Homo sapiens: one gene and its partner. The protein of the gene in region 1 purifies or fractionates together with the protein of each later gene. This does not show direct contact. Each region holds a gene or a part of one and is shown in the gene's direction. Other genes may lie near its edges.

What was found. Proteins that work in one complex are often made in the same cells at the same time.
Region 2: the proteins of PMP22 (region 1) and MPZ purify together in Homo sapiens (affinity purification with western blotting; one study listed by BioGRID). This does not show direct contact.

What each region holds. Positions count from the first base shown.
Region 1 is NC_000017.11:15,236,976-15,242,453, reverse strand, and holds part of PMP22 (peripheral myelin protein 22), read left to right. Parts: intron 1-2,842; coding exon 2,843-2,983; intron 2,984-4,572; exon of another isoform or gene 4,573-4,669; intron 4,670-5,478. UniProt on the Homo sapiens protein: Might be involved in growth regulation, and in myelinization in the peripheral nervous system.
Region 2 is NC_000001.11:161,303,247-161,306,968, reverse strand, and holds the end of MPZ (myelin protein P0 isoform MPZ precursor), read left to right. Parts: intron 1-47; coding exon 48-261; intron 262-504; coding exon 505-640; intron 641-800; coding exon 801-861; intron 862-991; coding exon 992-1,093; coding exon of another isoform or gene 1,094-1,285; 3' UTR 1,286-2,234; downstream 2,235-3,722. UniProt on the Homo sapiens protein: Is an adhesion molecule necessary for normal myelination in the peripheral nervous system. It mediates adhesion between adjacent myelin wraps and ultimately drives myelin compaction.

The sequences.
Region 1 (5,478 bases):
AAACAACTCTCTGGCCACTTTTATCCTTTCAACATAAGTTCTATTTTTTATTATTAATTTATCTTCTTTCTTTTTTGTTAACATTTGCCTGAAGCTTCTTTTCAGAATCTTTTTTGTTTTTGACTGTTGCTTGTTTTAGGTGTATCTATTATATTAGAATATAGCTACAATGTCTCTCTTTTTTTTTTTTTTTTTTTTTTTTGAGACAGAGTCTCTCTCTGTGCCCAGGCTGGAGTGCAGTGGTGTGATCTTGGCTCACTACAACCTCCACCTCCTGAGTTCAAGCGATTCTCTGCCTCAACCTCCCAAGTAGCTGGGACTATAGGTGTCCACCAGCACACCTGGCCAATTTTTTTGTATTTTTCGTAGAGATGGGGTTTTGGCATGTTGGCCAGGCTGGTCTTGAACTCCTGGCCTCAAGTGATCTACCTGCCTCAGCCTCCCAAAATGTCTTAATCAAAGATAAAATTCCATATCTTATGAGTGCCTTGAACCCATTCACATATAATGTGGTTGATGATAGACTTACTATCTTAATGCATGTGTTTTATTTATTGTGCTTATGGTTGAAAACCATCTTCTTCATCTCTGGATCATCAGAGTCAACCAGAGGGCTTGGCTCAAAGCAGTAGGTATTCAACAAATGCTCATTGAATAAAAATGTCCTTGATCCTCTAATTCTGATTTGATTCGAGAAATAACTTATGGCAAAGAGCTCAATTGTAATGGGGTTGGGACTAAAATTCAAGTTAATGTTGAAAGATGTTTCAAGAAGTATTTAGGTTATATTATTAAATATTAGACACTTTCTGTTTATATAGATTTAACATATAAAGATTTTAAGTTTTCTGTGTATGTGAGGTCTCGTAGTAGTTTCTGCTGAAAATGACAGGGGCGCGGGGTTAAGGGTGAAGACAGTATCTCAGGATTGGAGAAGGAAATCTAAGATATTGTCTCCACCAGCCATACTCCTCATGAACATGCACATGGAAGGACATTTCCCAGCCAAAGTGAATCCCTTTATTTGTTTTAGTTTCAGATTTGAGTCTCAGATTTCTTTGTAATTCCAGCTGCATCTACCAAAGTGCTAGATAATTTTTTTATTTTAAGCAAACAATATTATGAGAACATTATCTTTATTGCAAAGTGCTCCTCCAGAAGAACCTCTATGCTGGATAAAGACAAACATTTGATTAAGGTTATGTAAGAGTGAAATCAGGATGGCTCACAACCCATTAGCCGTCATTTTCTTACTTTAATTGACAAAGAAATTGAAAAAATGAAAGAAGCATATGTTGTGCTTGAATGTGAAGAGTGCTAGACTAGAATCAAAGGCCTCTTAGATTTGGCTGTGTCATTTGGGCTCATGAAAACACCTCTGGAAATCTCTTTCAGTGCAAAGGAGCTGGACTAGTTGATCTCTCAGGTTTCTTCCAACTCTAAAATATCTCCAGTCTGTGCCTTGGAAACATCTTAGGTGAAAATCTAGGAACAGTTAACCTAATTTGCACCCTTAAAATTCTGCCATGAGCTGCTTACAACTCAAAACAAGTTTATCTTACTCAGTTACTAATTATAAACCATCCAGATTTCAGAGCTGTGAGTACTGGGTGAAGCATTGAAGGTATGCTTTTGAAGCCATTACATATGGCAGTTACTGAGCTGAAAGGATTAAATGCTGCAGCTTCCCCAGTTGCCCTTCCTCCATGAGAGCAGTGCCTGCCCCCAGCATTCTGTGGCACTTGGAAGACAAGACAGAGGCCAAATGCAGATTTTTACCCTGGGCTTCCCTCTACAGTGTGGAACTCAGGTTGTTTCTTCTTTCCTCCCTGAAATGACATGAGTTTGCAGCGGATGGTGAACTGAAGAAACCATAGGAGGCTCTGTCTTCTTGCCTGAATTTCAGTTGGAAGCTTGGAGATTTGGGGTTCAACAGAGATAAGGAAGTGTAAGCCTTCATCCCGTCTGGTGGTTGGCGATCACACACCGCTCTGTGCTGAGGCTAATGGCCATGATCAGAGTTGACCAAAAAAAAAAAAAAAAAAAAATACGGGTTGTCCAAGCAAATTGATTTCCATACCTATAGAGAGCATACCTTTCTTCATCAGTATTTTCTTCCATTCTTCCAAAAAATTACTTTGGGCTCTAACAGCCATTCCCGTGATCTTTACCTCTCCTTGGGGAATGCAGATAATTTGAATAGTGGTTTTAAGCTATTTTTCTTGGAATACAGAAGTTCTGATAAGCCCTTCAAAGACCCCTGAGGGCAAGAAGAGGGAAGGTAGTAGGCAGGGCTCAGGCCCTCTTTAACACAGACACATGTACATAAGTAACACATTTGCACCAACACTGGAAGGAAATTCAATATATTTTAAAATGACTTTAACTCCTAGTGATGGAACTATAGATATTTTTTTACAGCCCTTCCCTGAATGTTCACATGTGTTTTTTATATATATGTGTGTGTCACGTATTTGTATATGTGTATATACACATATATATAGAAACACGTACATATTTGTATGCATATTTGTACATATAGGTATATATGTATGTAATGTGTACATATTGGCACATGTGTGTGTTTGTATATGTATATATCAGTACATATAGATGTATGTATATATGTATATATTTTTTCCTCCAAAATAAACAATAAAGAATGTCTTCTTAGATTGCAAAAGTGAATTGTCTGAGTTCTGCTAAGGAAAAAGGACTTCTGCTTCTGCTGCCTGTGAGGACTGTGCTGTCAGCAGTCATGGCCCTTCAGGCCCTGCACCTCGAGGCAGAGCCCTCCCCCGGCCATGGCCAGCTCTCCTAACCAAGTGTCTCTTTCCCCCAGAATGGCTGCAGTCTGTCCAGGCCACCATGATCCTGTCGATCATCTTCAGCATTCTGTCTCTGTTCCTGTTCTTCTGCCAACTCTTCACCCTCACCAAGGGGGGCAGGTTTTACATCACTGGAATCTTCCAAATTCTTGCTGGTAAGTTGTGGATGGTAAAGTCCATGTGGAAGCGGGGTGCATCCAAGTCTGCGGAATGATTAGTTTAGTAGAAGGATGTGGCCTCAGAATGACTGATGTTCATGAGTCTCCCCACTGGATGCTTTCCATAAAGTGAGGGTGGGTGCTTGTATGTGTGGGTGTGTACCTGTATGTGTCTTAGAACTTGGGACTTAGAACTCTCCCCTTCTCCCTGGAATGAGATGCATATGAAAGAGAACTTAGAGGATCTGGAAGGAAGGTCCCCACCCAAGCCAGGCGTATCAACAGGAATGAAACTGCAATCTGGACACATAATCAGAGGTGAATACTGAGGCTATCTGTAGAGCAAAGGTCAGGCTTGAGAGCTGTTTCTGTAGATTACATTATGCCTCCAGAAAATGGCCCTGATGTGCTAAGAACTAGCAAAGTAGTTATCAGGTATGTGTCTTCCACCAATAGGTAGTGATGAAGCCACACTGACAAATTCTCACCTTCCTTGCTTCCAGTTCCTAGATTCTACTGGGCTTTGATTGACTGTTGTCATCCTCTGGTGTCTTCATTTTGACACTCTTGTGTCACATATTGTCATTTCCAAACATGGGGCTATGACAACACATGAAAACACATGAGAGGTCTCCTTAATCTCCTGCCTAAACTGTCTTCAAGTTCCCTCTTTAAATACGTTATTAATATGCATAGTGTGCAGAGTCCTAGAAACTTCTGTTACACAGGGTGACATCTTCCAACTTTGTCTCTGGATTCTGCCTAGCATCTTACATGCTTACATCTTACATCTTACATCTTACATCTTGCATTCTGCCTAGCATCTTACATTAGCTCTTACATGTCTGTCTGTTGACTTACTGTTGACTGAACCAGCAGGGCATTGGAGAGAAGTAAGAGCTAGATGTAGTGGTGGATTCTGTGGTCCAAATTCATAGATCACAAACTTCATATGTACCAGAGTATGTCTAGGTACTGGGAGATGTTCTCAATTCTGACCCTCTGAGAGGGCAAAGGATGTAGCATCTCTTCTCTGAGTTGGTTGTCAGAATGCCCATGGTACCATTTCACCACTCTGTCCCCAGGAGCAGTCATTGGAAGGTTGACGTAAATAGGGTTGTATGGGAAGACACAGCCCAAGGTTAGATGTTGGTGACCTTGTCTAGAAGACAGAGAGTTCCCCTTTCCTGAAAAAAGGAAGTAAATGATTAACCACTTCTCATTAAACACTCAAATACAACATTTCAATACTCATGGTTTTGAGATTTCAAAACCAGACAGTGCTTTGCTACTTACACATGTCTTATGACACCAAGCCAAGCTCCTGGATGGTTGCTGGCTCTGTTAAATGACTAATTATGCAAGGAGATATCATTTCTAGGTACGTTAAAGTGAAGAGTTACCCTTACTCAATTTTCAGTTGGAATAAAAACAACTGTAACATATTCTGGGGTTTCTTTTTTTTTTTCTCACTCGTTTTAGTTTGATATCAAATCAAATAATGATCATATCCATTGCATCAGTGGATATGCCCTCAAGATAATATGGATTTAGAACCAGAACTTTCATAATGTATTTCTATTGAAATGTTAGTTTCATAAGCGATGATTGGGTTTTCATGCCCATGTGTGAGATGTGCCTCGCTCAAACCTTGTTATGATTTGGCACGTTACCCATCTGATGTGAAAAAAATTACATTTTATTTGTACAGGCTCGTTATTTTACTGATGAATAATTTGAGCCCACCAGAGGATAAATGAATGACCAAGGTCACCCAGCTCATGACAGGGACGGTTGAGTGTTACACTGAATATAGTGAGGTACTTCTTATATTTTAAAGACAGAATGCACCAAAAAATTTAAAGAACACAAAATCCAAGGCAGAAGCTCTGCCTTTTATATTATCTTTTATTGGAACTGATTTACAATGGAAGGTAAATGCAAATTTGCACCATGTATTATTCTGAAGTTCCAAACATCTGTGATGAATACAAGCCTGTACTATAAGACCCAGTCACATTGAAAATATGGAGCTGAGAAGAGGTAAGCTGCTGTTGAATGGGCTCCTTGGGATAGCCAGTACCTTCATCTTCATTCATCCTGCTGAGCTGTTTCGGCTTTAAGTTCTTTAACAATGTCTTTTTAGCAACATCATTACATCATTTTAGGCCAAAACTCAAAGTCCAGAGATAAGAACCCTTAAGTCACTCATGTAACTGCACTGTGTGTTAAAAGTATTTCAGTTCAGCCAAACACTCTTCTCCTAGGTATTGCGATTTAAGTATATTTACTAATCCACTCTTGCTTCACTATTTTCATTCTCCTCCAAAGTCAATACAAGATGTTTAGAACTGTGCTGGAAGTGCAGAATTCCGAATGTAAAAGCGCATGACTTTGTCCTCTTTATCCCCTTTACATCTAGCTGCTTACGTCTCATGAAACTGAATTTTCAGTTATCTGTTGGTCCACATTTGAATAAGAAATTATCTTGA
Region 2 (3,722 bases), on another chromosome or scaffold:
GTGTTCTCATTAGGGTCCTCTCACATGCTTCCCCTCATTCCTCATAGATCTTCCACTATGCCAAGGGACAACCCTACATTGACGAGGTGGGGACCTTCAAAGAGCGCATCCAGTGGGTAGGGGACCCTCGCTGGAAGGATGGCTCCATTGTCATACACAACCTAGACTACAGTGACAATGGCACGTTCACTTGTGACGTCAAAAACCCTCCAGACATAGTGGGCAAGACCTCTCAGGTCACGCTGTATGTCTTTGAAAAAGGTGTGAGAAGGGATGGGGACAAGGGTATGGGAAGCAGTTTGGGAGGGGATCAGGGAGGACTGATAGGTTGGGGGAAGAGGCAAAAAGCCCGGCCTAAGGACCTTTATTCAGGCTCTGGGAGCGTGGGCAGAAGGCAGTTTTAGCTGGGAGTCCTACATCCTCAATGCAGGGCATACACTCGGACTAGGAACCACAGATACAGGGCCCTGCTCATTCTCCCACTTCTTTTCCCACCCCTCCTAGTGCCAACTAGGTACGGGGTCGTTCTGGGAGCTGTGATCGGGGGTGTCCTCGGGGTGGTGCTGTTGCTGCTGCTGCTTTTCTACGTGGTTCGGTACTGCTGGCTACGCAGGCAGGCGGCCCTGCAGAGGAGGCTCAGGTAAGGGGCGGAGCCTAGCTCCCCTCCCCCTCTCCCCACTATCCCCCATCTGGGCGGAGACTACTCCAGTGGGTGGGAGGGCCAAGGGGAAGAGGAAGCTGTGTCCGCGGTGCAAGGGGTTCCGGCGAGGCCAAACGTACAGCAGTCTCTCTTCTTGCAGTGCTATGGAGAAGGGGAAATTGCACAAGCCAGGAAAGGACGCGTCGAAGCGCGGGCGGCAGGTTAGCGGGACTTGGGGCCTAGACAAGATGGGAAGGAGAACCCTGGGAGCCGCCGGGCAGCAGTGAGGGGTGGGATGGGAACAGTCAAGCCCCAGTCGCTCGGTGACTGATGTGTGCGCCCCTCCCCCAGACGCCAGTGCTGTATGCAATGCTGGACCACAGCAGAAGCACCAAAGCTGTCAGTGAGAAGAAGGCCAAGGGGCTGGGGGAGTCTCGCAAGGATAAGAAATAGCGGTTAGCGGGCCGGGCGGGGGATCGGGGGTTAGGGGTGGAGTCCGCCAAAGGCCCAAAGGTGATGGTCATCGAGATGGAGCTACGAAAGGATGAGCAGAGCCCGGAGCTCCGGCCTGCTGTCAAGTCCCCCAGCAGAACCAGCCTCAAAAACGCCCTCAAGAACATGATGGGCCTGAACTCGGACAAGTGATCGCCACCCCCCCACCCCAGGCCCTGCCAGAGCAGGGGGACCTAGGCTCCTCTTACCCCCGTCTAGGTGCTTTCCCTCTTTGCTCCCCCGCCCTGCCCTGCCCTCACCTCCCTTTGAGATGTAAGTTTCATTCCAGAATTCATTCCCCAGGCAATTGTATTCTCCCCCACCTTCACCCCTGGCTTTCTGGGAGCCCAGGAGCTAATCCTACCCCTCACCTGCCCCGGGGGCTGTGTGTTTGGTGCCTGTCCACCTGAGCACTGAGAAGAAAGGGACTTTGATACCCTCTGCCTCAAGTCCAGGCCACCTGGCATTCCCATCTCCTGCATCCCCCAGCCTGTCCCCCTGGCTGTTTCCTCTCCCGTCCCTCCCTCCCCTCTACCAGGTGGCCCAGCTCCATACTCTGTCCCCCCAGCTAATACCCAGAGCACCCAGATCAGACTCTCCTTCAGGGTTTATTTAGGTTATTATTTTTTATTTTTTAATCCATTCTTTGTTTGTTTACCTGTGCTCATCCTCTGCCCTTACACCCATGACTGAGGACCAATGACGTCATGTGGCTTTTGCAATTCACGCCCCCCTTAAGTCCTTAATGAAGAGCCAGCCCAAGTAGAGGGGCCCCTGATCCTCACACTTCAGTATAGCATTGGTTCCCCCTGACCACTTTGGAGCACTGTTCTGGGACTCCAGGTCTTGAGGAGAGAGACAGAGAGAGAGAATGGATCCTCATAGGTCAGGGAGTGGGGGAGGGGGCAAATGAGCCTTAAGAAATGGTTTTTAAACAACCAAACAAAAAGCAGGAAAAACAAATGGGAAATGGGGGGGCGGGGGGGAGGAAGAGGCTGCACTGCAGCCACAGGGGATTCTTAGGATTTTTCTACATTCTGTATATTTCTTCTCAAACCTCCAAATGTCCTTAAATGTTTAATAAACACTGACATTTCCAGAAGCTGCTGCCTTGTCTAGAATTTCCTAGTCCTCCTGGGAATAATTCCTGCCCCTTATCCCATCCCCAACCTTCCATACTTGGCTTCAGTTGTTTAGTTTGTTTTTTTGGGGTGGGCTTATATAGTATACTAGAAAGAACTCTGAAATAGCCTCACAAGACACATTCATACCTTCAGCAAATAATCAGTGAGATTATACTACGTTGTAAACTCTGCCAGTCTCTGCTTTTACATGAGTTAAAACGCAGAATCTGTCTTCACCAAGATCTGAATTTTAAAACATCCCAGCCACTCTCTAGCTGTGTGATCCCCAGGACAGTTACCTGACTTTGGTAAGCTTGTTTATGTACTTGTAAACAACTGAGATAATGATATCTGCCCTGCTTAATTCCTAGGGATTTTATAATAATCAAATGAGATCCTGTGTATGGAAAACTTTGTAAACTGTAAGTTGATATACAACTAAATATTAAGGTGTTCAATATTTGTTTCTAGTGCTTGCCTAAGGTAGTACACTTTACAAATTAGCACAAATCCCATTCACCTCTCTAAACAATCACTGCTTTGTTTTGTTGGTACATGATTTTACTTCTGTTTACCTATTAATAGGTATACTATTAATACCTCATTAGCTAGTTTGTTGGTATGTTGATTTAGGTATACCATTAATATCCTGGTATCCTGAACTGATTGTGGAAAAACATATACGTATCATTTTCCCCTGGGGATTACTGATGGCACAAAAAAACCCAAAGTGCCCACAAGTAATTTCTTCCCCTTGTTAAGAAGCTAAAGATATGATTAACACCAGCTTTACCAAAACCCAGAGTGCTTCCATTTGTTTGAGGGGTGTCTTCAATGTCTTTTAAAAAAAATCAATCTGCCTTCATTTAAATATAAAAGCTAATAGAGTATATATAGCCTTTTGTTGGGGGGAAGTGGGAGAGGAAACTTAGTCACAACCCAGTAATAAAGTTGGGAATATCTTAAGCCCAAGATTCCTTATTAGTTAAGATGCTAAACTGTCCATTATTCATTAGATAGTTGCAGCTGGGTTCCCTGCTTAAACTTCCCAGACTGTCAGGAGAGTCAAATGAGGTTGGATGTGGTGGCTCATGCCTGTAATGCCAGCACTTTGGGAGGCCGAGGTGGGCAGATCACTTCAGGCTAGGAGGTTGAGGCCAGCCTGACCAACATGGCTAAACACTGTCTCCACTAAAAATACAAAAATTAGCCGAGCATGGTGGTGAACGCCTTCTAACCCTGGCTACTTGGGCAGCTGGGGCACGAGAATTGCTTGAACCGCGGAGGCGGAGGTTGCAGTGAGCCGAGATCATGCCGCTGCACTCTAGCCTGGGCAACACAGCGAGACTATGTCTCATAAAAATAAAAAAGAAAGAGAGAGAGAGAGAGTCAAATGAAATATTATGCTACTTATGAGATAGAGTATAGCTCAAAGCTTCTCATTTAATTACACTTTTGTTCTAAAA